Linked DNA regions of Homo sapiens: all the other regions are linked to region 2. Evidence: fine-mapped expression QTL. A gene starts in region 2. Each other region holds a variant in brackets. All regions are shown on one strand. Distances are between the middles of the regions. Region 1 overlaps JARID2 (jumonji and AT-rich interaction domain containing 2). Region 2 holds the start of JARID2 (jumonji and AT-rich interaction domain containing 2). Region 3 has its middle 26 kb from the start of JARID2-DT. Region 4 overlaps JARID2 (jumonji and AT-rich interaction domain containing 2). Region 5 overlaps JARID2 (jumonji and AT-rich interaction domain containing 2).

The links.
Region 1: its variant is fine-mapped to the expression of JARID2 in subcutaneous fat (GTEx, PIP 0.99).
Region 3: its variant is fine-mapped to the expression of JARID2 in whole blood (TOPMed, PIP above 0.99).
Region 4: its variant is fine-mapped to the expression of JARID2 in fibroblasts (GTEx, PIP 0.92).
Region 5: its variant is fine-mapped to the expression of JARID2 in whole blood (TOPMed, PIP above 0.99).

Annotation. Positions count from the first base shown.
Region 1 is chr6:15,499,333-15,504,332 of GRCh38, reverse strand. JARID2 (jumonji and AT-rich interaction domain containing 2) reads right to left here. Exons shown (of 18, transcript NM_004973.4): 8 at 2,924-3,426. Among named protein-coding and RNA genes, the nearest start is that of DTNBP1-AS1, 44 kb to the left of the region's middle. The variant A/CTTCA (reference allele first, on the strand shown) is at 2,811.
Region 2 is chr6:15,243,067-15,248,066 of GRCh38, reverse strand. It overlaps JARID2 (jumonji and AT-rich interaction domain containing 2), which reads right to left and starts at 1,998. Exons shown (of 18, transcript NM_004973.4): 1 at 1,483-1,998. The coding sequence starts at 1,527. It overlaps JARID2-DT (JARID2 divergent transcript), which reads left to right and starts at 2,693. Exons shown (of 1, transcript NR_187237.1): 1 at 2,693-4,144. JARID2-AS1 (JARID2 antisense RNA 1) reads left to right here. Exons shown (of 2, transcript NR_120502.1): 2 at 1-252. RefSeq lists enhancers at 1,921-2,020, 2,131-2,180, 3,370-3,883 and silencers at 2,791-3,050, 3,061-3,370.
Region 3 is chr6:15,216,909-15,221,908 of GRCh38, reverse strand. No RefSeq gene overlaps it. Among named protein-coding and RNA genes, the nearest start is that of JARID2-DT, 26 kb to the left of the region's middle. The variant C/T (reference allele first, on the strand shown) is at 2,249.
Region 4 is chr6:15,437,369-15,442,368 of GRCh38, reverse strand. All of the region lies in intron 3 of JARID2 (jumonji and AT-rich interaction domain containing 2), which reads right to left. Among named protein-coding and RNA genes, the nearest start is that of DTNBP1-AS1, 110 kb to the left of the region's middle. RefSeq lists an enhancer at 3,410-3,479. The variant G/A (reference allele first, on the strand shown) is at 2,261.
Region 5 is chr6:15,378,770-15,383,769 of GRCh38, reverse strand. The region is part of intron 2 of JARID2 (jumonji and AT-rich interaction domain containing 2); the gene reads right to left. Among named protein-coding and RNA genes, the nearest start is that of JARID2-AS1, 130 kb to the right of the region's middle. The variant C/T (reference allele first, on the strand shown) is at 2,084.

The DNA of each region.
Region 1 (5,000 bases), 260 kb before region 2:
GAACCCGCAGTGCCAAGAGGAGTGGGAAGACTCCACCAAGGATCAACCCCATGAGGGCCAAATTGTTCTGCCAGGAACAGAGGCTGCCGCCCAGAGGCCCTGAGCGGACGCACAGCAGAAGCGCGGAAGGCCCCTCCAAGGCTCTGCTGAAAAAGCAGCTTGTGCTGGAGGCAGAATCCCTCAGCTGACAAAGGCTGCTGCGGGCCAGCGGAGAAGCTATCAGCAGCTATGACCTGATGGAACTCGTGACCAGGGATCCCACAGGAGAGAAGCTGGAGAGACAGAAACTGGTGCGACATCTACACCCTGAGAGTCCTTGCCATATTAACACCTGCCAGGGCAGCAGCCTTCACTGAGGTTGCGACCTGGTCGCCTTCTCTCCACAGAACCACCTGCTGTCCCCTCTGCGCCTCTTCTTCGATGCCCCTCTGTTGCCCTGTTCCCAATAACTTCCAGAATGATTTGCTTGCTTTGATAAAACAGCTGAGTCAGTTTGGGAATCCGGAGTCAGCACCTTCTTTTACCTACCACACGAAATGTGGTGCGTTTTTCAGAGGGAATCCATCTAAGACCCTTGCTATTTCTTTCTTACTTGACCGGGCACATTTGTTGCTTGAGTCCAGAAATATCTCCTGAGCACCTATGGTGTACTAGGTCAAATCCTAGGGGCTGGAGACAGAGCAGTGCATGAAACACACAAAACCTCGAGGAGCTTCCATTCAGTCTGGGGAAGACACAGGCCTCAAACACACAAATATGGGATGGGAGGAGGTGCCAGGTGTCATGTAGAGTGGGGGAGGGTGGTCAGGGAAGGCTTCCCTGCGGAGCACTGGACACCGCAGCGTCCCCCTAGAAGTGATAGGGCCACAACAGGGAGCAGCAGATGCTTTCTGCCATTGGGTCCACAGTCGTAGTCGGCATGGAGACATTGGCTTGTGCCTTTCTCTCCTGCAGCAAAGGAACTAGATGGGGTTCTAACTACAGGAACGTACTTCCATGCAAATTCCAAGCCGCTCCTGATAGTCTGTTTCTTGTAAATATAAAAAAGGAGGGACTGAATTCTGCACCAAGGCAGAGTGCAATGAGTGGAGGTGAGGATGACACCAGCAGACCAAAGTCAGCAGCCAGGACACCGGTGCCACAGAGAGTTGCGTGCTCACGGTCCCTACCCGTGGGCACACGGCTGCTGGGGGCTTCGCCATGGCCACCACGCAGAGCTCCACTATATTTCCGTGATGAAATCTAGAAATACCCTTGACGGGGTGGATTTAAACAAATCCAAACCTCTTATTTGAATCAAACATACGCTCACAGAATTGGCCTCCTTCAGTAAAAAGTAAAAACGTTGACAGTTTCTCATTTCACCAGTTGGCTATTCAGTCACAGGATTCACTGAGTGGCTTTACTTGACAAAGGCTTCTCAGTAAAACATTCAGGAAACACCAAATAAAGTTCCTCAGAGCTTACAGTCTCTGGGTCACACTTGGCAGGCTGCATCCAGCAACCCCCACACCGCATCCCCACCAGGCAGCCTTGGGCAATGGGAGAGCAGACTCAGATAAAAGGGAGCCAAACCCTCTCAGGGTCTCAGGCCAGAAAAACTGGGTACCTCTTTCCAGAGAAGTGTGCAAGGACATGAGATGCAGCCTGAGGCGGGTCTGCAGGGCCTGGACTTAAAGTGAAGCAGCAACGCCAGGAGTCAAGTCAACCCTTCCTCCGTATTTCTAAGATGTGTGATGGTATCAGAAGCCCGCATTGCCTCAACTACAAGGCCAGGCCAGAGCCTGCAGTCAGGCAGCCGTGGGCACCTGAGGGTATGGTGGTGTTTAGTGATAACCAACAGCCAATTCCCAATGCTGCCGAAACCCACTAGCCACACACTCCCACCAGGCTCACGAGGGCTGGAGCAGAGAACGCTTCCCTTCCAGTGAATCCAGAACTGGGACCACAGAGGACAAGTCTGTGCCGGGAAACTCAGCAGAGACTTCAACTTAGCTGAGCTCGGCCAGCTGGGCCCCGGGTGCCCCGCTACCCACTGGCAGGCTGGAGAAGGGAGGAAACCCCAAGCCTTGCTTCAGAGCCAGGACAGCTGGGAGAGCTGCCAAGAGGAGAGCCACGGACTCTGCCTCCCCTGCTTCTTGGAGGGGCGAGTCTCCTCAGGATGAGTGTGCTGCCGGGAGACCTGGCGGAGACAGGGAAACGCTGCATGTTTCAGTTTGCTGGTTTCTCCCCAGCTCTTCCCTCCACAGCGTGTGAATGGTGAGATTCATTTTGATGGCTTTATCAGGGATAGCTCTCCACAGAGAGGACCTGGCAACGCTGGGCTGGCAGTGAGGTGAGCGGATAGAAAACAGAGAAAACAAGCGCACAGAGTCCACTGACGGTCCAGCCAGTGAGAAGTTCAGCTGGATCTGGGCAGCTGTCGAGCACCAGGATGAAACGGAACTGGAGAAGCAGGGGAAACGAAGCATGCAGCCCAGTTACTTATCCCTGGCATATGGAGATGTGTGCACGTGCATGCAACACGCACACGCAAGCCAGTTAATGAAAAGGAAACCCGAGGCCCTAGGCAGGCGGAATGGACTCGTGGTATCTTCGTGGAGTGGACTTCCCCTCCCTCACTGGGTCTCCTGCTGCCCCATCAACGCACCCACAAGGCCCTCACTAGGTTCCTCGATATTGGACTTCCCAGGCTCCACAACCAGGAGCCAGTACATTTCTGTTTATTATGAATTCCCCAGTCTGTAGTATTTCAGCAACACGAGAGGACTAATACAGCGCTATCACCCAGCACAGTGGCCCGCCCCCTC[A/CTTCA]TCACCCCAGGGAATCAGAGAACACACCGTCCAGTGCATAGCACGCTCCACTTCCTCTCTCATTCCTCCCGCACTCCTGCAGCTGGGAGTGGCTGCTCTGCGGAGGCCCCTACCTTATAGATGCACTTGTGGAAGTCATTGAGGACGCCTTTGTCCTCCTCCTCTTCCTTGACCACTTCTTTTTCCTGAGCGAAGAGTCGCCGCCGGCCAGTCTTCAACTGGGCCTGGCCCACCTCCTTGAGCTTGCTGCGGAAGCCGTTCCTGGGGGCCACGCCGTGGATGAGCCCATTCTTGGGCTCGAAGCGGGGCAGAGGGTGGAACTTGTGGTGGTCGTTCTCTGTGTGGCCTTCCAGCGGCCCCTTGCGCTTCTCCAGGATCTCCTTCTCCATCAGCACCTCCTTCTCCAGCCGCCGGTGCTCCTCTGGGGACAGGGAGTCGTAGGAGAGTAGGTACTGGCAGTAGGCCTCCTGCAGCTTGGCCAGCCGGTCCTGGGCAGTTCTGGGGATGCGCAGCATGTCTGCTAGTTTGTTCCATTTTTTGAGGTCAGTCACTTGCTGCATGCCGCCCATCTCATTAATCAGCCGGAAAAAGCAGGCCAGGTCGAGCTCACAGCCCCCTGGGACAGCGAAGGGGAAAAAAACGGGACAGTTAGTGAAAGAGACACGAACAAGATGTTCCTCATTCAACCTGTACTTCTTGAACTCCTACTATGAGCCAGGACTCTGACAGGCTCTGGGGTGAGAGTGGTGAACAGCAGACTCCCGGTCCACAGAGAGAAGGGCGTTACAAAATGATGGGTCATGACCACTTGCTACGAAGAGCAGGTGGAACGAGGGACTACCATTTTAGGTGGGGAGCGTCTGAGGAGGCAGCATTTAAGCTGGGGCTTGGCTGGAAAAGGATGCGAGCTGGCCAGACAGACATACAGGGAGGAACATCCCAGTGTACCATGTACTGGTACATGTGTTGTCACATGGAGGCGGGTGTCATGAGAAGACTAGCTCCCTGGTGAGGAGTGGGTAGGGGTCCTGGCTGCACCCACGGCCCAGCGTCACCTAGAATAGCTTTGACACATGCTTGTTACCAACTCCCAATTCCCCTTCTATAATTCCCAATGCCCACCCACTCACTCACTCAACTTCACCCATCCACCCACTCACTCACACAAAGGAAGTCTATTTTCCATCCTGCTGGATTTCCAGAGCAAAGAGCAACACCTGCGTGAGGACACAGGGCAGCACATCTATGCCTCGTCCCTCGCCCATCCAGACAGCGGGCTGCTTCTCAGTGCATAAGCTGGTGCTCAGTGCCCCTCCTGATCAGGCCACAGAGCAGCGCAAATGCACATCAAACCTGGGCAGGTTTTAACGCGCGCCCAGTGGCTTTTCTAGATGGGAATGGAGAAAGCAACCTCCCTCGGGCCAAATAAAGGAAGGGGGGTAGGGGAGATTTTCCAAAATAACCATCAACAAAATACTAAACAAAGTACAAATTAACAACGTTTTAAATCTTTAGAGTGTGGGGATATATTGTTTTTAAGTAATAAAAGGTAAAGTGTGCACGGATCCAGTCCAGGCAGGGTCGCTGCACATACCAAGCATGACAGGACCCACTAGGTGAAGCGTCTGAACCACCTCGGCAGACACAGCACACACAGAGAGCGAGTTCCCAGCACACCAGCAAGACCAGGGATGGGGACACAGCAGCCTGAATTCCACTCACACTAAATGGCAGGACAGTGGACTGATGTGGTTGTGGAGAACAGGGGAGTTGGGGTAACATCCATGAGGGAACTGTCCCCAGCCTCGACAGGAGGGACCTAAGAACTGAGACTCCACAACAAACTCCAGGTCTCACAGACTCCCAGAGTCACAGGTGGGACTCACGGTGGCTCTGGCTGACAATCGGGAGTTCTTCCTCCGAGGGCAGGTGGGTACTGTCTCAACTTACAGAGGTAGGCACCAAAACGAGTCCCCCAACCAAAACAAGTCCTCCACCGTCCGAGTGACTCAGAACACAGGTCACAGAAGGGAGGAAATCCACACTTTCATATTTCACTCTAAGTAGATTATAACGCAAGAGCACCTGAAAATCACACAGCGCTTGCAAGAATTCTTCATGGAATCCTCATCCGCTGCGATCACTCCCACTCAGGGCCTTGAGGCTGCTACGTGGCCGAGCCCCTTCCCC
Region 2 (5,000 bases):
AACCCACCCCACGCTGCTCTCCACCTCAACGAGGTCCGGAATGGGAGGCGGGGTGCGGTTCTCGTCCAAGTTCTACCCCATTTGCTTTGTGGCTGCATCCGAAACGGACGTGCCCCGGGAAGGCGTCCACGCTCCAAGACAAGGTTGCCTCAGTGCAGTTTCTACAGCCCGAGTTTAAACTAGTCCTTTGCATTCTACCCAGCCCTCTGCAATGCGGATGTATTTTAATTCTTAAATTCTTTATGGAACAGCTTTCTAAGTTGGGCTTGATTATTTAACCTTGCATTTCTTTCATAGTTGAAGTTGACGTGTCTAGATAAGGATCAGCTCTCTTGAAGAGGCATTCAGCTTTTCCATTAAATATATTTTTTTACAAAACCAGTGCCCCGAAGGTCATCTCTCATTACACACACCACAATGATCAAAAAGGGAAAATATTAACACCAATTTGTCTACCCAACTTAAATAAACTTTCCTCTTACGTTGCATTATTCCTAAGGTATGTTCATTTGGCCTTTTTTGAAAAAAAAAAAGAGTTATTTAATTTAAAGCATGCAGCTAATCACAGATCACTCGAGTGCATATTTGGTTAATCCCTCGGTCCCCCTTTCCTCCCTCCCCTCAAACTTAAAAAAAAAAAAAAGCCACCACACACAAAACAAAAACACTCCCCATGCCAATCAAAACGTAGCTGTACTATGCACAAAACAAATTTAACTATTCCAAGCCATTTAAATCTAGGAATAATCACCCAATTTCAGAAGCCCAGTTAACAGGGAGAAATTATTTGTAGTTACTTACATATGCATTCACGTACACACTTAAAAACATTAGCCATAGTGTGTGTCCTTTTCCCCTACAACTGGAAACCATGAATTTTTTAAACAAAACCAGCCTCATTATTAAAGTCAATCCCAACAAATGCATTCGCTGTAACATGATTCCCAACTGGTTTATGTTGCAAACCAGATAAGCCAAAACGACCACAGACATTAAATTTGATGTGCCAGTGCAAAGAGAAGATCGCCATAATCGGACCCTCGATCGCAACTTAAAGGGCTTCCAACACACATGCGTTACACGATTTTTCCAAATAACATTAATAATAATAACACAGGCTCATTTGCATGCAAAGTGCAATACGGGGCCAAATCCGCTTGAGAATGCAGTTTAGTTACATTACCGCAGCCACCCCCCACCTCAAGCTCCACCAAAATCCCTTGCCTTTCATCTAAAAGTAGATTATGGTTGTGTCATTCGAGGTCAATTTATTCACTTGAGGTATCTCTACACCAGTCTGTTTTTTCAACCAAACTAGGCAGACACCACTTTGCTTGAAAAGCCCTCTTTCAGAAAAAAAAGAAACAGCCTTATCGGACGCTGTGTTTAAAACCCTTCAGAGGCAGAATTATCTATAAACTTGACATTCACAGCCATTGCTTAAAACTGCAAGTCAAAGGATGTGTTGTTAGGAGCACTTACGTATTTCTTCTGAATGATATTCCTCTTGGGTCTTTCCTTGCTCATTCTGAGATCCAAATGCTGATTGCAAAAGGGGACAATTGCTTCATGAATTTAAAGCCGTCAGAAATTTGCAAAAAAATATCCTGGTGGTTTTTATTGTTGTTGGTGGTGGTTGATCTTGTAATCCGACTTTTCTTCCTCTTCCCCCAAAGCCAGATTCGCCTTGAAATAAATCCGAAATTGGGAAGGAAAAAAAAAGAGCCAAAGACGAACGAAGCAAACAAAAAAAAATTCACTTTAGTAAAACACTCATAATGGAAAATTTCCCCCGAAACACATACACACACACACAAAAAAAAACCGACGCCCTTCACTCCCCCCCCTTTTTCCTCCAAAAACTACATCAGCGAAACGTGAAGGTCCTTAGTGTCTGATCCGTAGTTACATCTTGGAAAAGAAAAGGGAAAGATAAATAAAAAATGTTGGAAGTCACGTTTGTGCTGCAGCAGCAGTGCGAGCAGAAGAGTCAACTCCAGCGGCGGCGGCGGCGGCGGCGGCAGCACCACAGCGAGGGCTCGCCGAGTCTCTTTTTTCCAAGCCCCCTAACCAATGAGAGAGAGGCTATCCAGCCCAACTTTAAATGGACTCTGCTTTTATACAAGTTAGGGCTCCTCGGATAATTCCCCGCCGGGCGCCAGCCGAAAACTCCCACCGCTCAGCCGCCAGGCGCCCGCTTAGCCTGGTGCCGACCGCCCCTGGCCCAGTCCAGGGCACCCCCGCAGCCTGGCCAACCAGACACCCGAGCGACCTCGACGAACCCCTCCCAGGCAAGCCCTCGGGCGTCGCTCCCACGCCGAGCCCAGGCGTGGAATTGAGAGAGGCTCCCTAGCTCAATGCATGGCACGCTCCGTCGCTCCACCTCACCCCCTTTCCCCTGCCTGCCGCTCACCCCACGGCCGCCCCACGCCAGCCCCCGCCACTGCCTTCGCGTCTACCTGCAGCCGGGCTGCTGGGTAGGAGTGCCCCAGGACGCCCGGCCCCGGGGAGAGCCGCCTATTCCCGGGGCACCTTAGAATGGTCCCCTTGATCTTCTGGAAGTTGTAGTCCCCCGACTACAAAATGGCTATGGCCACGGAAGCTGGGAACTACAATTCCCAGCCTGCCCCGCAAAGCCTGTCACTCAACTCCCCTCCCTCCTCCTCGCCCCCTCCCCCTCACTGGCCGTGCCAACAAACGCTTGGACGTGTCCCGCGTGCGACACTGCTAGAGGCTGGCTCGGGATTGGCCCGCGGAGCGTGTGGTCCGCGAGCGAGGAACTCCCCACGCCGGCCCTCCTCCGCCCCCCGGGCCCCGGCCCCCCTCCCCTGGCGGCCGCCAGCCCCCTCCCCGCGCGCCCCGCCCCCACCCGCGGCGCGAACCGCCTGTGGAATCGAGGAATCGCGCGCGTGCGGCCCGGAGCCGCGGGGGAGGGACGCGAGGCTTCCCCGGGGAAGGCCTCGGAGCGTGGCGGTGAGGGGGGCGGTGTCAGGGAGGGGTTGGAGCCCGTCCTAAGGAAAACTGGGCCACGCACCAAGAGGAATCCTCGGTGCGAACTAGTTGATCGGCGGCGCCTGCTGCTTGTGCCGTGCAGCCGGTGTCACCTCAGGACAGCGCCTCGCGTCTGTGTACAGAGCGTGCTGCGGGCGCCTAGGGTAGTCCGAGGTCACCCCTCTCCGCGCCCCGCAGTCGCGCACGCCCCCACGCGCGGGGTGGGCGGTGGCCGGGGGTCGCCGAGTGGAAAGGCCACGCCCCCCCACGCCCGGGCTCGGCACGCTGCCCCTGGGTCGCGAACGCGCCTCCGCTCGACCCGCTTGGAGGACGTCGCTGGTGGCCCAGGAGTGAAGCCCCGGCGGCTGCCTCCTGAGAAAAGATAGCCGTGTTTAAAGAGACTGAACGGGATCTTTGCTTTGCCGGGCGTATTTTGTGATAAAATACCACAAAATGTTGAGACAAAAATGAGTGGAATATGGAGACCGAGCCGCACAGACACGCAATTGTAAGGAAACATCTCGAACACCGAGTGCCAGGAATATCAACTGTCCGGGCCACGCAAGAGCCTGCTTTTTACCTGCCTCCAGCCCCCTGTCGTGCTGGTTTAATCGCTGAAACAAATGAAGTAGCAGGCCCTGGCATAGCGCTTTGGGCCTTCGCCTTATTAACAACTTTGTCAAGTCTCGCATCGCGATTCTGCCTTGTTAATTTCCTTGTTTTTCGCTGTGGTTTTGGAGAAGCAATGTTTTCCATGATCTCTCAGGCTAGCCTCGGAATAAAACGTGGCAGAAGCGCTCCCGCGAACACATACCCATATATTTTATTCTACCTATTCCCTAGAGTCTGCTAACTTCAAAAGTCTAGATACTCACACAGCTGTTTACTTGCAGCAGTATTTGAAGAGATAACCTTGGTGTCTAGAAAGGTCTCAGAAACTGGAGGTAAGAGACCTGGATTCAAATCGCGCCTTGGCCACTTCCCAAAAGGCAACCGAGAGCCTCTCTGAGCTTGTCAGTTTCCGCATCTGCAAATTAGTGGTGATCAAACCTGTGGGGATGATTATGTGATAAATAACAGTAACCTAGTTTAAAACTAGGCACGTTATTGGAAGCTTTCAGTAAACGAAATAAAAAGCCTTTTCGAGAGGGTATTTTCCTTATTATTTTTACCTTTTCAAAAAATCTGAAATGAAATAATTTTATCTAATGTTCACTTCACAATTGGAAAAATAAATGATCTTTTGTGCCCTGAATACTGCAAAACTTGTACGCTGGTGCCATTTCCTGGGAAGGATCCAATGGGGCAGACTACAGTAGGGCCACCCAAGGTGTTTTCTAAAAACTTTCTGATCATTAGGACTGGCATACTGGGAATCTCCACGTCTCCACGTTGTTAAGATTTTAACCAGCTTTCTGTAAGTTTAACGCAGATACCTCATTCCCTAGGCAAATATTAATGAACAAAGGTGAGTTTCTTTTCTGTTCCCCTAACTAGCCCTGGGGCCTGGACTTCTCAGTCCTGGGCTTGCGAACTCCCCTGCCAGGCTACCAGCTCCAGGTCACCTGGTGTGAAAAACTATTGTGTAAAGTTGAGGCCTCAGGGCAGAGGGGAAAGGAAGGAATTTGCTCATTTCCAAAAGATTTGAATAATATTAGTGTTGTTTTCCCTGAAAGAGAAAAAAGGTTGGCCTTCTTAGTGGTTGAAAGATTTTCCTGTTGTGAAAGTAACCTACTCCTAATGAACTTCCTTCCCCTACCATCTTGGCAAGACCATCCAAGGCTTTTCTTGCTCCTTCCTCCTCTTTTTCATTTTCTGTAAGTCAAATGCAGCTTTTCTTATGATGATTTTCACATCTCAAAGCCTTGACCTCTTCAATTGGAGGGGCAGGGATGAGAACATGTCTAGGTACATTGATTGTATTAGACTCTATGCCAGCACTGTCCTCATCCCTGAGGACACAGGAAGCTCACAGCTCAGTAAAAAAAAAAAAAAAAAAAAGGCAGAGT
Region 3 (5,000 bases), 26 kb after region 2:
TCTCCCTGACTGACCCTTTTTAAGCACAATAAATTTAACTTGGATTTCTTGGGGTCAAGCTAACCTCACCTAAAGAACTTGCTTAGCAGAGTTGAAGCATTGCTGAAAAATAACATTCATCTAGGAATAAAAATGACTTTGTTATGTAGGGATTTGACAGAACAAAGGGCAGCTGCTCTGAAATCAAGTAGGAACCCTGGGTTGAATTTGGTGGCTCACATTTGTAATCCTAGCACTTTGGGAGGCCAAGACAGGAGGATCGCTTAAGTCCAGGAATTCAAGACCAGCCTGGGCAATGTAGCAAAGCCCCATCTTTATATAAAATAATAATAATAATGAAAGTAGGAACACTGGTGTCCCTCTTGGCTCTTCCCTCCCCATATTCTCCCTAGCACCAACAGCCAATCAGTCACCTGATTCTTCTTATTTATTTTATTTTATTTATTTATTTTTTATTTTTTTATTTTTTTTTGAGACAGAGTCTCGCTTTGTCGCCCAGGCTGGAGTGCAGTGGTGGGATCTTGGCTCACTGCGAGCTCCACCTCCCGGGTGCACGCCATTCTCCTGCCTCAGCCTCCTGAGTAGCTGGGACTACAGGCACCTACCACCACGCCCGGCTAATTTTTTGTATTTTTATTAGAGATGGGGTTTCACCGTGTTAGCCAGGATGGTCTCAACCTTCTGACCTTGTGATCCGCCTGCCTCGGCCTCCCAAAGTGCTGGGATTACAGGCGTGAGCCACCACGCCCGGCGATTTTTCTTTTTATAAAGCACCTTTCAAACCCATCCACTTCTGTTTCTTTAACCTAGACCTTCATTAGCCTAGACTTTCAACTATTACTTGTCCCACTGCAACACCCTCCAAACTGGTCTTTCTGCCTCTTGCCTGGCTACAATCCATCCTCCCCAGGGAAAAGATTGGTCTTCCCACCATGCAATCCTAGCTAAGCACTTCGGTGGATCATCTGTGAGGACAGCCACCAACAAATTATTCTTTCTGTGAACAGGAACGGATGGAATCCATTTCCTCTCCCCCGCCTTTTTTTTTTAGAGTGGGGAGCTCTGGTGCAGGATCCCCTCCTCTTGAGTCTGGGTCTGTAAATTGCTTTTACCAACAGAGTGTGGTGAGGGTAATATTCTGGGACTTCTAAACCCAGGTGTTAAGAGCCCAGCTTCGCCAGGCATGGTGGCTCATGCTTGTAATCCCAGCACTTTGGGAGGCCCAGGTGGGTGGATCACTTGAGGTCAGGAGTTCAAAACCAGCCTGGCCAACATGGTAAAACCCCCCGTCTCTACTAAAAATACAAAAAAATTAGCTGTGCGTGGTGGTGGGCACCTGTAATCCCAGCTACTCAGGAGGCTGAGGCAGGAGAATCGCTTGAACCTGGAAGGCAGAGGTTGCAGTGAGCCGAGATGGCACCACTGCACTCCAGCCTGGGCAACAGAGCGAGACTCTATCTCAAAAAAAAAAAAAAAAAAAAAAAGAAGCCCAACTTCCTTTTCCTTCTCTTGTCCATCAGCTGCCATGTAAAGTCGTCTGATAGCCAGGTGTAGTGGTGCATACCTGTATGCTACTTGGAAGGCTAAAGCAGAAGGATTGCTTGAGCCTAGGAGTTTGAGGCTACAGTGAGCCAAGATCATGCCATTGCACTCTAGCCTGGGCAACAGAGCAAGACCCTGTCTCAAAAAAAAAAAAAAAAAGAGGCTCTGAGCCAGATTACTGGATGGTAAGAGATCAGGTGAAGATGCAGGGGACCAGCCAGCCTTCACACATTGCAGCCACCTAAGGCATCAGAGAAGTGAATGAAGTCATAGTGAACATTCTGCCAGTGACTTCAGATTCTCCAAGGCCTGTCAAGCCACTCCAGCGAGCACCATCTGGAGGAAGGAAGACCCATCTCTGTCAAGTGTTTAAACCACTAGATTTTGGCATCATTTTGACATGGTTTGTTACACAGCTATAGATAGCTGAAACATGCCCTAGTTTTTTTTTTTTTTTTTTTTAATTTAATTTTTTTTTTTGAGACAGAGTCTCAACTTCCCAGGCTGGAGTACAGTGGCGCAATCTCAGCTCACTGCAACTTCCGCCTCCCAGGTTCAAGCAATTCTCCTGTCTCAGCTTCTCGAGTAGCCAAAACTACAGGCATGAGCTACCATGCCCAGCTAATTTTTTGTTTTTGTTTTTGTTTTGAGAAGGAGTCTTGCTCTGTCACCCAGGCTGGAGTGCAGTTGCGCCATCTCAGCTCAC[C/T]GCAAGCTCCACCTCCTGGGTTACGCCATTCTCCTGCCTCAGCCTCTGGAGCAGCTGGGACTACAGGTGCCTGCCACCTCGCCCGGCTAATTTTTTGTATTTTTAGTAGAGACGGGGTTTCACCATGTTAGCCAGGATGTACTCGATCTCCTGACCTCATGATCCGCCCACCTTGGCCTCCCAAAGTGCTGGAATTACAGGCGTGAGCCACCGCGCCCGGCCTGTATTTTTAATAGAGACAGGGTATCTCCATGTTGGTCAGGCTGGTCTCGAACTCCTGACCTCAGATGATCACCCACCTCGGCCTCTGAAAGTGCTGAGATTACAGGCATGAGCCACCGCACCCAGCCTAACATGCCCTAGTCTTGTTTTTGTTTTTGTTTTTTGAGACGGAGTTTTGCTCTTGTCGCCCAGGGTGGAGTGCAATGGCGAGATCTCGGCTCACTGCAAACTCTGCCTCCTGGGTTCAAGTGATTCTCCAGCTTCAGTCTCCTGAGTAACTGGGATTACAGGAATGTGCCACCACGCCCAGCTAATTTTGTATTTTTAGTAGAGATTGGGTTTCACCATGTTGGTTAGGCCAGTTTCAGACTCCTGACCTCAAGTGATCCACCCACCTCAGCATCCCAAAGTGCTGGGATTACAGGCGTGAGAGCCACTGCGCCTGGCCAGCATGTGCTATTTAATATTTGATAAATGAATGACTAGCCAACTGAATGAAGGTTAGAACTATGGAATAGGCCAGGTGTGGTGGCTCACACCTGTGATCCAGCCCCCACCACCTGTGGTTCACCTGTCTTCAGCAGGCTTCCTTCCTCTGCAAGATTGTCGCCTACAGCAACCAGGGCTTACTCTGAAAGGGGAGAAAGCACTGCTCTCCATAATCATCCAACAGTTTGTACTTTCTTTCTTTCTTTTTTTTTCAAGGCGGAGTTTCACTGTTGTTGCCCAGGCTGGAGTACAACGGCGCGATCTCGGCTCACCGCAACCTCCGCTTCCCCGGTTCAAGCAATTTTCCTGCTTTAGCCTCCTGAGTAGCGGGATTACAGGCATGCACCACCGCACCCGGCTAATTTTGTATTTTTAGTAGAGTCAGGTTTCTCCATGTTGGTCAGGCTGGTTTCGAATTCCCGACCTCAGGTGATCCGCCCCCTCGGCCCCGCAAAGTGCTGGGATTACAGGCTTGAGCCACCGCACCAGGCCAGTTTGTACTTTGACAGTGATTGGCTCATCCCTGAACTACTCTAAGCAAATACTACGAGTTAACTGGTTTGGGTCTAGATTATTATCCATACATCACCCAATTACTGCGGCAGAGGAGTAGGTAACTTTAAACTGATTTATATATGCCAATTAAGGTCTATGCCTCAGAGCTGGGATAGGTTTATTCCTACTCAAGACTTAATGAGGGGCCTGGCACAGTGGCTCATGCCGGTAATCCCAGCACTTTGGGAGGCCCAAGGTGGGTGGATCATTTGAGGTCAGGCGTTCGAGACCGGCCTGGCCAACATAGGGAAACCCTGTCTCTACTAAAAATACAAAAATTAGCCAGGCGTGCTGGCAGGTGCCTATAATCCCTGCTACTTGGGAGGCTGAGGCTGGGAGAATTGCTTGAACCCGGGAGGTGGAGGTTGCCGTGAGCCGGAGATCCTGCCATTGCACTCCAGCCTGAGCGACAGAGTGAGACTGTCTCAAAAAAAACCCAAAAACCTATGGAATATTCGTTTTGGACTTGATCATTTTTTAAAATTTTTACTTATTTTTATCTTTATTTTTTCATGCTTGGACTGTTAGAGAAAGACTCATAATTTTTATTCTTCCCTTATATCATCCCTGATCTTGCCCAGCAGATGTTATCTTCTAAAAGCTTTGTTTCATATGCTCTGATTCTTAAATTTCTCCTATCTCAGCTGTCTCCAAAGGGACAATAATTGGTGTTCATGATGATATGACTTGGGATAAAATGAAACCTTGAAGTGATACATTGTCTGAGGTTATAGTTTTAACTTTGGAAATTCAGAAACCCAATTTATGAAAATCTATATCTGTAACTCTGAATTAACCCATATGTTAAAAACTCCCAAAGAACCCAAATATTTGTCAATGTGGGGAAGAAAAAAATCCCCTGATTTTGTAAGTGTTTTTACTTTCTGAAAGGGGATTCCATATCTCTTATTCATTCGCGTCTCATCACAGTTCTGAGAGATGAGTAGAAGAGGTGGTGGCACTGTATTTCTGTTTTACAGGTTTGAAAGCAAAGGTTAGCCAGGCATGGTGGCTCACACCTGTAATCCCAGCACTTTGGGAGGCGGAGGCGGGAGGATCACAAGGTCAGGAGATCCAGACCATCCTGGCTAACACAGTGAAACCCTGTCTCTACTAAAAATACAAAAATTAGCCGGGTGTGGTGGCGGGTGCCTGTAGTCCCAGCTACTCGGGAGGCTGAGGTAGGAGAATGGTGTGAACCTGGGAGGCAGAGCTTGCAGTGAGCTGAGATCTCGCCACTACACTCCAGCCTGGGTGACAGAGGGAGACTTCGTCTCAAAAAAAAAAAAGAAAGCAAAGGTTGTATGAGTGTCCAGGGTCATATAGCTGGTTAGTACTACAAGTCAAGTAGGATCCATTCCACTGATGACTGACTGACTAGTCTGCTACTTTTGCCCCATACAGTGGTGATAATAGTAAGAAGTTTCAATTTATTGAGTAACTGAAATTTGTACTTAAGATTTGTACGTTTCTTAAGTAATTTTTT
Region 4 (5,000 bases), 190 kb before region 2:
TATCTAAGTACATTCAGTTTTAAAAGCCTAGAAGAGCGAGTTAAAATGTTAATTTGCCTTTCTACTATCTCTCGATGGGATTCCCTATTTAGTTTTTAAAATATCATTTCAACAAAAACCCTAGCAGTCTCTCAATTTTAGATTACTCAACACCCAACTGCAAATTGCCAGAACTCTCCTGGCAATGGGCATGTTTGGAAAGGCAAAGGGAATGACCCTGTGAGGCGAGAATCCTGTTTTACTTCCTTTTTTTTTTTTCAAAATGCAAGAGAAATATAAGAAGAAATTGTATTCTACAATGCTATACAGCTTATTAAAAAATAAAAATCCAGGCCAGGCGTGGGGGATCACCTGAGGTCAGGAGTTTGAGACCAGCCTGACTAACATGGTCTCTACTAAAAATATAAAAATTAGCTGGGCGTGGTAGCAGGCGCCTGTAATCCCAGATACTCAGGAGGCTGAGGCAGGAGAATCACTTGAACCCAGGAGGTGGAGGTTGCAGTGAGCCGAGACCGTGCCATTGCACTCCAGGCTGGGCAACAAGAGCAAAACTCCATCTCAAAAATAAAATAAAATAAAATAAAAATAAATAAATAAAGAAAATCCAGTGGAATGCTTCTAAGATAGCTGCAGAAACTTCCCACCAGAAATATCATACCAGATGGAGTTGTGCGGTAGGTGAGGTCCTAACCATCCATTCAGCACACGACAGACCAAAGCACAAAGGCGGCACTCAGAGTGTCCTCTAAGTCCCAGAAGGACCAGAGTGGGCTCTGGCATCTTACATGTCCTCCCTCTCATGCAGTAAGTTCACTAACAGAAATTTTCTTCATTTAAAGGGTAACAAATAGAAAAGGGATCCCAGGCAATTTCCCCACCCACTGCAAATCTTATGAAGTAGCCAGCATGCACCAATAGATGGCAATAGCGAGTCTTTACACTCCAGCTGTGGGATCACCCCTAAGGGGAAAAAAAGGAATGCTAAATTATGACAAGCACTAGTATTAGCCAATTTTTAGGACCTGCACTAAAATCTGGTGCCAGTTAAGAACCCAGCCACTATTTACAGAAAGTAGGTCTATCAACGCTATTAGTAATACCATCTCACCCCTCCAACTCATTACACCCCAAAGTTCTTGTATGGAAAACATCTAGGAATATACAATCCAGCTATTTTAGATCCCAAGAAACATGGCTAGAGATAAAACACACAGCATCTAGCCTTTTTTGGTGAGTATCAGAAAACCTACATTTTCTGATTATCACATTTTCTGAGTATCAGAAAACCCACAACATCTAGCCTTTTTTGATAAGTATCAGAAAACCCACATTTTGGGGCTCTGACAGAAATTTATTTAGTTGCCTGGACCTTAATCATTTGTGATTTTCAAAGTATGGGGCATTACTTAAACTATCACCAACAAAAATGCGGAGTGAAGTCTGCTCTGTAAGAAAAGGATTCACTATAACTGACACATTGTCTCTGACAACATTTGTTAAAAATGCCTAAGATAAGGAAACACAATCATAATTTAAAAAATCTGCTAATAGCTAATGAACTTTAGGAAAACTAATTCTCCTCCACCTTCTGACTGTTTGAGCTCTCTGATGCTGAAACAACGGCACATTCTCCCACTTAAAAACCGGAGCTATTACAGACACAGTGTCTGAGCATCTATGTCACTGGCTGTAGTAACAGTTCTAGAAGACACATTAGTGGAATAAAAATTTAAATACAACCCAAAGAAACTGTGCCAATGGAAAGTGGGCAACAGGGCAAGGTGAGCAAATCAACTTCCTTTCTAACAATACCCAGAATATCCCTTAAGCAGCCTTAAATTTTTCCCAACATTCAACACTGCACATGGTACCATATTTCAGGCCACAAAACAGAAACCAAATGGCATCACTGAATCAAACCAAAGGGAGGGACCTGAGGGGCTGGGAGGCAGGATGCAAAGGGGTCAGCCCAAACCTTCCAACTCACAATATTCTACCTCGATTACAATCTTAATAACCATTCCATGACCTCAGACACCTCGCCTCAGTACAACATGAAAGTCCTCCCAGTTTTTATCAGCCAAGGACCAGTCCGCTGTTGCAAGCTGTGAATCCACCTGATGTCAAGAATGTGCACTAAATTGAAAGAGGTCACATATGTAGACAGCGGCAGTGGACAACAGATGAGCAGTGAGTATCTGCAGGACATACATGTTCATCTAATTGCGTACGGCTTAAATGAACCCTCAAAGGGTCGGAC[G/A]AGAATATCTTCTGACTACATCTCAAGTCAAAACGTTTCCAAGAAGGTAAAGTCATTCTCTCTGATTCACAAGGGGTCTTGATGTCAAGTATGTTATCTGTGTTTCAGGCACGGAACCAACAACACTCTGCTAAAGGTACAGCATTGCTGGTTTAACACATGTGCCTCAGAGTTCCTTTCCAGAGACAACATGCTTGCATTTGCTGTGACATTATAAAAGTACTCTATGGGTTTTTAAGGCTTTGAGCCAAGCCAGTAGCAGAAACTCCCAGGGGTGAGACTGGGAAGAATGAGGAAATCAAAACAAGCCCTTCTCCTCATCCAATGAAGCTGGCTTGTTACCCCTCTTCTTTAGCATTTTAACTCCATGACAATTTCTGATCCCCACTCAGTTTCCGGAAACATCCTGAGAAAAGAAGTCCAATCTCTTAAACAGGACTCAAGATAAAAACACCCAAGCTGTGTGTAATTCTGAAGGGCTAAAAGACAAAGACTTCCTGTTCAATTAAGTCCTTCATTAATCCCTCCTGCTTAAGCCCATTTTCCTTGTCTGTAGACAGGAAATGATAAAGCCACAAGGTCAGCCTCCTTCAGTGCAGCTTAAACCCTCCAAAGAAGGCTGCAGCCACATATCCATCGTAGGTTCCTCACAAAGCCTCACTATCTGTTCATTTTTTCTGGATGGCATTACAAAACAGAGGGAAGGGTGATCAAAAGTATAACCAGGAGTGAAAGAAACGGGAGAATAAATTGCACGACATCCTAATAAAACATAACAGCAGGGGTGCAAGTACAGGAGGAGGATAGAGATCCATGCAACAGGCTTATAAACCTCCAACAATGAAAGCAGCCAATGATAAGATTTTTCAGCTAAAAACTTCTTAAATGAGCAATGTCCAAAATCTTATCTTTTACCCCAACCTCAAACCTAGCTTCACTGAGTCCTCTTGCACCAGGAGTAATTAATGGTTGTGATGCTTCCTATGAGAGGCACTGTAGCTGGGTTTGCCTCATTCTCCCCTGTTCCACTGCCTGAACCAGAAAAAGCACCCCCCACACCTTTTTTTTTTTTTTTTTGAGACAGAGTCTTGCTCTGTCACCCAGGCTGGAGTGCAGTGGCGTGATCTCAGCTCACTAAAACCTCCCCCTTCCGGGTTGAAGCGATTCTCTTGCCTCAGCCTCCTGAGTAGCTGGAATTACAGGTACCCAACACCATGCCTGGCTAATTTTTCTATTTTTACTAGAGGCAGGGTTTCACCATGTTACCCAGGCTGGTGGTCTCTTACTCCTGACCTCAGGCAATCCGCCTGCTTTGGCCTCCCAAAGTGCTGGGATTACAGGTGTGAGCCACCGAGCATGGCCACAGTAAGGGATTTCAATGGAGCAGATAGAAGGATACTGTGGAGGGAAACTGCTTCCTAGCTCTTTTCAAGCTATGCTGCCCCCACCACAGGAAGGCAAGCCACCATTGAAGAGAAAGGATAACATTTGCCTAAAGGATCTTTAAAGCGGGGGCTGCCAGGAGGAACCACAATAACAAAGAAGTTGGAATTGTCAGAAAAATACTCACATTTTGTCCACATTGGTCAGAAACAATGACGTGCAGAGGAATCATGGAAATGAACTACATCCTTCTACGCTCTGCAATTCACAGATGAAAAAAGCTACGTACGTACATCTCCCTCACTGCTGACTTCAGCAGAATGTTATGCCAGCCAACTGGGCAAATGCAGAATCATGTTCATAAAGATGTGGGTGACAGGCACTGGGAGGGGGGATGCATAACTACCCTCTTTATAATGCAACTTTCCGATTCCGCCAGCCTCAACATGCCCTAATGGTCTCCCTTTGATCAAAGAGGCATCCATCTTTAACTGTGTCAATCCACTGCCAAACTCCACACTCCCAGCCATATATCAGTCCTGGGAAGGGTTGCTGAGGCTTCTCCTCCAGCAATTTGTAAATGAGAACATTTCCAGCTGGATACTTCAAGTTTCCTCCCCATCCCACCACCCCACAACCCATTTCCAAAATACCATCAAAAAGCAGCCATAGTAACTTCATACCCAGAACAGGCCCCAAGACATTAAACCTGTGTGGGTTTGGAAAACAATACTAACAGACACTGACAAAAATATTCTATCTTCTATCTATTCTGCTAAGGGCCCACTTACCTTTCCAAAAATTCACTTGTTCTTCTTAAGTGGCCTTTCTCCACCCTCTTCTAAGAATTTATTTGTCCTCCCAGAATCGCCCTTTTGCCCCCCACATCCCATTAGGATGGTAAATTCTTTCTTTTTTTTTTTGAGACAGAGTCTCACTCTGTTGCCAGGCTGGAGTCCAGTGGCGTGATCTCAGCTCACTGCAACCTCCGCCTCCCGGGTTCAAGCGATTCTAGGATGGTAAATTCTAACCTCCTCTTAGAGTCACATTTCTTTGTGAACTCAACTAAATCTGTTTTTTTTTTCCCTGTTGCTAATCTGTCTTTCATCCATTTAATTAGCAGGCTCCCCAAAACTGAACTTAAGAGGGTAGAGAAAAAGTTCCTCTTTTTAAAATACGTTTCTTCTATTTTTTTATGTCATACAACTTTAAAAGCAGAGAATGTTACACAAACTAGCACTGCAGATAGACAACCCTAGTAACTAACTAGGTTAAGGGAGGACTTCCACAATGTAAGCGTAAAGGACAGTGCATAAGGAGCTGAGGCCAAGGGTTCATGGTGTGATTCAGCTGGACA
Region 5 (5,000 bases), 140 kb before region 2:
GTGGTGTTCAGGAGATGTTCAATCACGGTAAATGCTGCTAAATGGGCAATTACACCCCAGAATAATGGAAATGTGGCTTGGGCAATCATTACTGACCTTGATAAGTGGCCCAACGTGAGGGGTTTAAAGGTGAATGGCAAAGGAAGGCTGGGGGATATTAATATGAATATAAATAGAAGGGCATGGAGACAAACCTTTTAGACATTTTCTTATGGGGGATTTTGCTATAAACTAAGAGAAAGATACAGCAGGCAGGAGATGCAAGAACAAGGGAGGCTTTACTTTATTATGGGAAAAATAAGAACATGTTTCTACAATGGTGGGAATGAACCAGTAAAGAGAGGTAAATGATGAAGGAGGGATAATTTCCAGTGTGATGTCATGGAGGGGGAGTTATTAATTTCATCCGCAAAGAAACTAGAGAGACCCTTATAGAAAGAGCTTCAGCTTAAAAAAAAAAAAAAATCCCAACCTGGGCATGATGATACATGCCAGTAGTCCCAGTGTCTCAGAAGGTGAGGTGGGAAGACTGCTTAAGCCCAGGGGTTTGAGGCCAGCCTGGGCAACATGCAAGACCCTGTTTCAAAGAAAAAAAAAAAAATTCTAGACTACAACAAATTTCCATCCATTTGCCTTCCCCACTTCTTTGAAACTGAACTCCTATAAAAACTGGCAAAAGCAAATAGGCTGTAGCAAACAGGCCCAACTAGAGCTCAGACTGCTCTCCCTCCCTTCTGTCTCCCTACACAGACCACCTCCTCCGCCCTATAGCCCTACACATACAGACTCCACTACCCAGGTGACACTACCTGAGTGCTGTGTCCCTCCTAAAGTCGTCCAGGATTGGATGGGAATGATGATGTAATCAGGGAAACAGAGCCCAGCTCACAGAACTGACAAAGGAGGCGGGCAGAGAGAAAGAGAGGGGCAGTGGGTGTCAAGCACAAAGTGACCCGAAAGAGGAGCACATTAACCTCCTCAGGCACCTCCATTCTTAACGCTCCAGGAAATGCGTGCAAGCAGCCATGCCTACTAGGAAGCGTGGCGCCTCACTGTCACTTAAATTGGATTTCTGGTTCCAATCAGGCTTCAGCATGATCCATTCCTTCCAGTTAAGTTTCTCATCAAGGCTCAAAATTCCTCATCTGTAAAATGATGAGTTTGACCTATATACCTCTAAAAAGACTCTTCCTGCTCTAGCAGTCCTTAATTTTGCACACCACTCCTTTGGCATCAGACCAGTACAAGTGACTTGGCCACGGAAACCGGCCATTGCAGCCATTTGTCCCACTAGATTATGACACCAACAGACCAGTCAAATATTTGCTGACCCCTGCCACCCCAAGGTCTTGCTCAGAAATCTCTCGCATCTTTCAAGACCCCTTTGCAAGGCTCATGGATATACAACGTTTCCTGTATCTTAGGACTGGGTCTCTGACATCATCTGCCTCCCTGCTAGCCTCCTGCACTCACCCATACACTCGTTTGGGGTTTTTGGTTCTGTTTTTTGAGAAAGTCTCACTCTGTTGCCTAGGCTGGAGTGCAGTGGTGCGATCTTGGCTCACCACAACCTCTGCCTCCTGGGTTCCAGCAATTCTCCTGCTTCAACCTCCTGAGTAGCTGGGAGTACAGGCGTGCGCCACCATGACTGGCTAATTTTTGTATTTTTAGTGGAGACGGGGTTTCACTATGTTGGCCAGGCTCATGATCCGCCCGCCTCGGCCTCCCAAAGTGCTGGGATTACAGGCGTGAGCCACAGTACCCAGCCCCATTTGGTTGTTAAAGCATTTATCCTACAGTATTTTATCCTGCTTCACAGATTTTAAGTTGCATCTATTTTTCTCATGTTAAAACATGCATCTCATAATTAAGCTGTCCCACATTCATCATTGGAAGCACTGTTTTGTTCTTGCTTACTGATACATAACATAATGGTGCATCACTCAATGACATCTTAGAAGGGATGAAATAAGGTATTAGGACTTGACCAAAGTAAGCAACTTGATCTCAGTTTTTATACCCACAATGCCTCCCACATAATAAAAACTCCAACACTTACAAAATGAAAATCTGAGAAATGCCC[C/T]ACCTACATCACTACATCAAAAAAGCAGCTGAAAGACAAAGAGCCCAAGCCTTCTCGCCTTTCCACAACAAATGTAGCTTCCTTTGTAAACAAAAAATAAGTTGTTTTCAACAACATTGAAGCCCTTCATTTCACCCAGCTTTCTTTCATGCAGAGTGTGTCCTCACATCAGGGGAAACAGGAGAGGGAAAGAAAAAAGTCTGGAGGCCAGGACACAGGAGTGTTAGAGAAAACTCAAGCTGCAACTGGTCTCCCTACAGCTTGCAGAGGAGGAGACTAGCACACAGACATCAACACTTCGGTAAAGCTGAAGCATAAGCCACTTTTTTTTTTTTTTTTTTTTTTGAGACAGGAGTCTCCCTCTGTCGCCCCAGCTGGATTGCAGTGGCACGATCTGGCTCACTGCAAGCTCCGCATCCCAGGTTCACGCCATTCTCCTGCCTCAGCCTACAGGCACCCGCCACCACGCCCGGCTAATTTTTTTTTTTTGTATTTTTAGTAGAGACAGGGTTTCACCATGTTAGCCAGGATGGTCTCAATCTCCTGACCTCGTGATCCACCCGCCTCGGCCCCCCAAAGTGCTGGGATTACAGGTGTGAGCCACCGCGCCCGGCCCATAAGCCACTGTCTTCAGAAGAAAATAATAATAATAAATAATAATAAATGATAATGATAAAGTAGGCACCATCTCTAGTACAGCTAGACCTGAAAGTTTCCAGCAAAAACAGAAGGGACAGGTGTTCCCCTTCGTAGAGGAAGGTCACTTTATACCCCAGACATTCATTTCAAATATGGCCCACAAATAAACTTACGTAAATCAGACCATGTGACCTGACATTTTTTTATTTTGATTCACAAATACGTTTTTATGACTTGTGTGAACATATTTTGTTAACAATGAATTCACAGTCGGGCCCACATTTCATTCCACACACATCAAGAATCTTTGGAAATGACTGAAAGATTCTGAAAGGAGTTCAAAATTATATTTCTTAAAGGGGGCTTGGGGGGTGTTGGCTACACAATGTCCCACATCTGCGCTTCCAATACTGGTCCTTGGCTACAAATTGGCAGCTGTTGCCAAAACATCCATGCACCATCCGTCCAGTGAGTTCCAGCCAGCCAGAACGACAACAGCATTAAAAACACAAAACTCTAAGTGAGGAAATGGAAACTAACGGATGCATCTGTGTGTCTGACTGAAGAGAGGAGGAAACCAATTCACAGTCTACATTTTTGATACCCTCTATCAATTCAATTACAAATCATAAATAAAGCCCAGAAACACAGTCAATAAATACTTACCATGCCTTCCAAGGTTCTTTTTCCCAATAAAAAATTCACTTACTGACGGCCAGGCACGGTGGCTCACGCTTGTAATCTCAGCACTTGGGGAAGCCGACGTGGGCAGATCACCTCAGGTCAGGAGTTTGAGACCAGCCTGGCCAACATGGTGAAACCCTCTCTCTACTAAAATATAAAAGTTAGCCAGGCATGGTGGCACATGCCTGTAATCCCAGCTACTCGGGAGACTGAGGTGGGAGAATCACTTGAACCCAGGAGGCTGAGGTTGCAGTGGGCAGAGATTGCGCCATTACACTCCAGCCTGGGCAACAGAGCAAGCAAGACTCCATCCCCTCACCCCCGGCCCCCGACCAAAAAAAAAAAAAATCCACTTACCTCCTTCCAAATAAATACCTACTTAAAAAAAGTAAAGTCTTCCTACAAATTCTTATTTTTGGAATGCTATCTTTATGAAAGGCTCCAAAATTACCTCTCCTTATCTAAGTGGTGGCTACAAGCTTGGGAGCTCTAATCCAGAAAGCATGGGAGGTCTGATCCAAAAGGCCTGGTCTTATATCCTCATGCTTCCACTTAATAGCTGGGTAGGCAAATTGCTAATCCACTCTTAGTATATAGTTTCCTCACCTATAAAATTGCTTGTTCTGAAGATTAAATGAGTTAAATACAGCTAAAGTACTAGAACAATAACTGGCAAATAGTGAGAACTCAAGGTAGGCTAGCCATCACAACTACTGCCCGGGGTAAGTTTAAGGAAATGAATCCAGGGTCCCTTAAATCTCATCAAGAGTGTTTTGCTGGCCAAAGGACTTGATCTAAGATGACATTTATAGGAAGCAAATGAAATTCAAATACAGTTAATAGCTTCCCTCTCTGACTGTGTAATTCTGTGTACTCATTATTTGTGTAGCATGTTATTATTTAAATGTCCCTAATTTTAGCCTCAGCAGGCCAAGGGCCCTCAAAGAGTGGCCAAGGTCTCAGCCTCTGCCAGTCCTTTCCAAAGCTTTTGTCAATTTATTACATCCATGAAAAGTGGCATTATCTACAACAAAAAGTAGACAGAAGGCTCACAATCAGCAAATCTTACCACTTCACGCTTAAGCCCAGCAATAACCAACAAGCTGTAACGATGGCATCAGTTGCTACACAGACAACTCATGAGGCTGTTCAAAACTCACATATCCTACCAATAGTAGGGCCAAAAAAAAAAAAATTCATTCCTTGTCACTGTAAAACCACAAAAACAAGACTGATAGCAAACATGGATTTTATGACATGAAAAACGACGTGTCTCCACTATCTTATGTCTGCTTAGGTTATTACTACTCACAGACCTACAGAACCAGGGCAGCTGAGCTCACTGCTCAGATACAAGCTGCAGTGTCCACACACTGTTCCCAGGCATCAGATACCCGACCCCCTTCACACAGATGAAGGGCAAAGGGCTGCTTGTTCATCACACCAGGATGCCAATGATTCAGGAGATGTCACATGTATTTTATTTTCAAATTAGATAAAAATTCTGTAAAATCCATTCTGCTGTTATTTTTAAATATTATGGTAAAAACAAATGATTTTTCCCAGGAAAGCCTCCAATCATCCATTTATATTT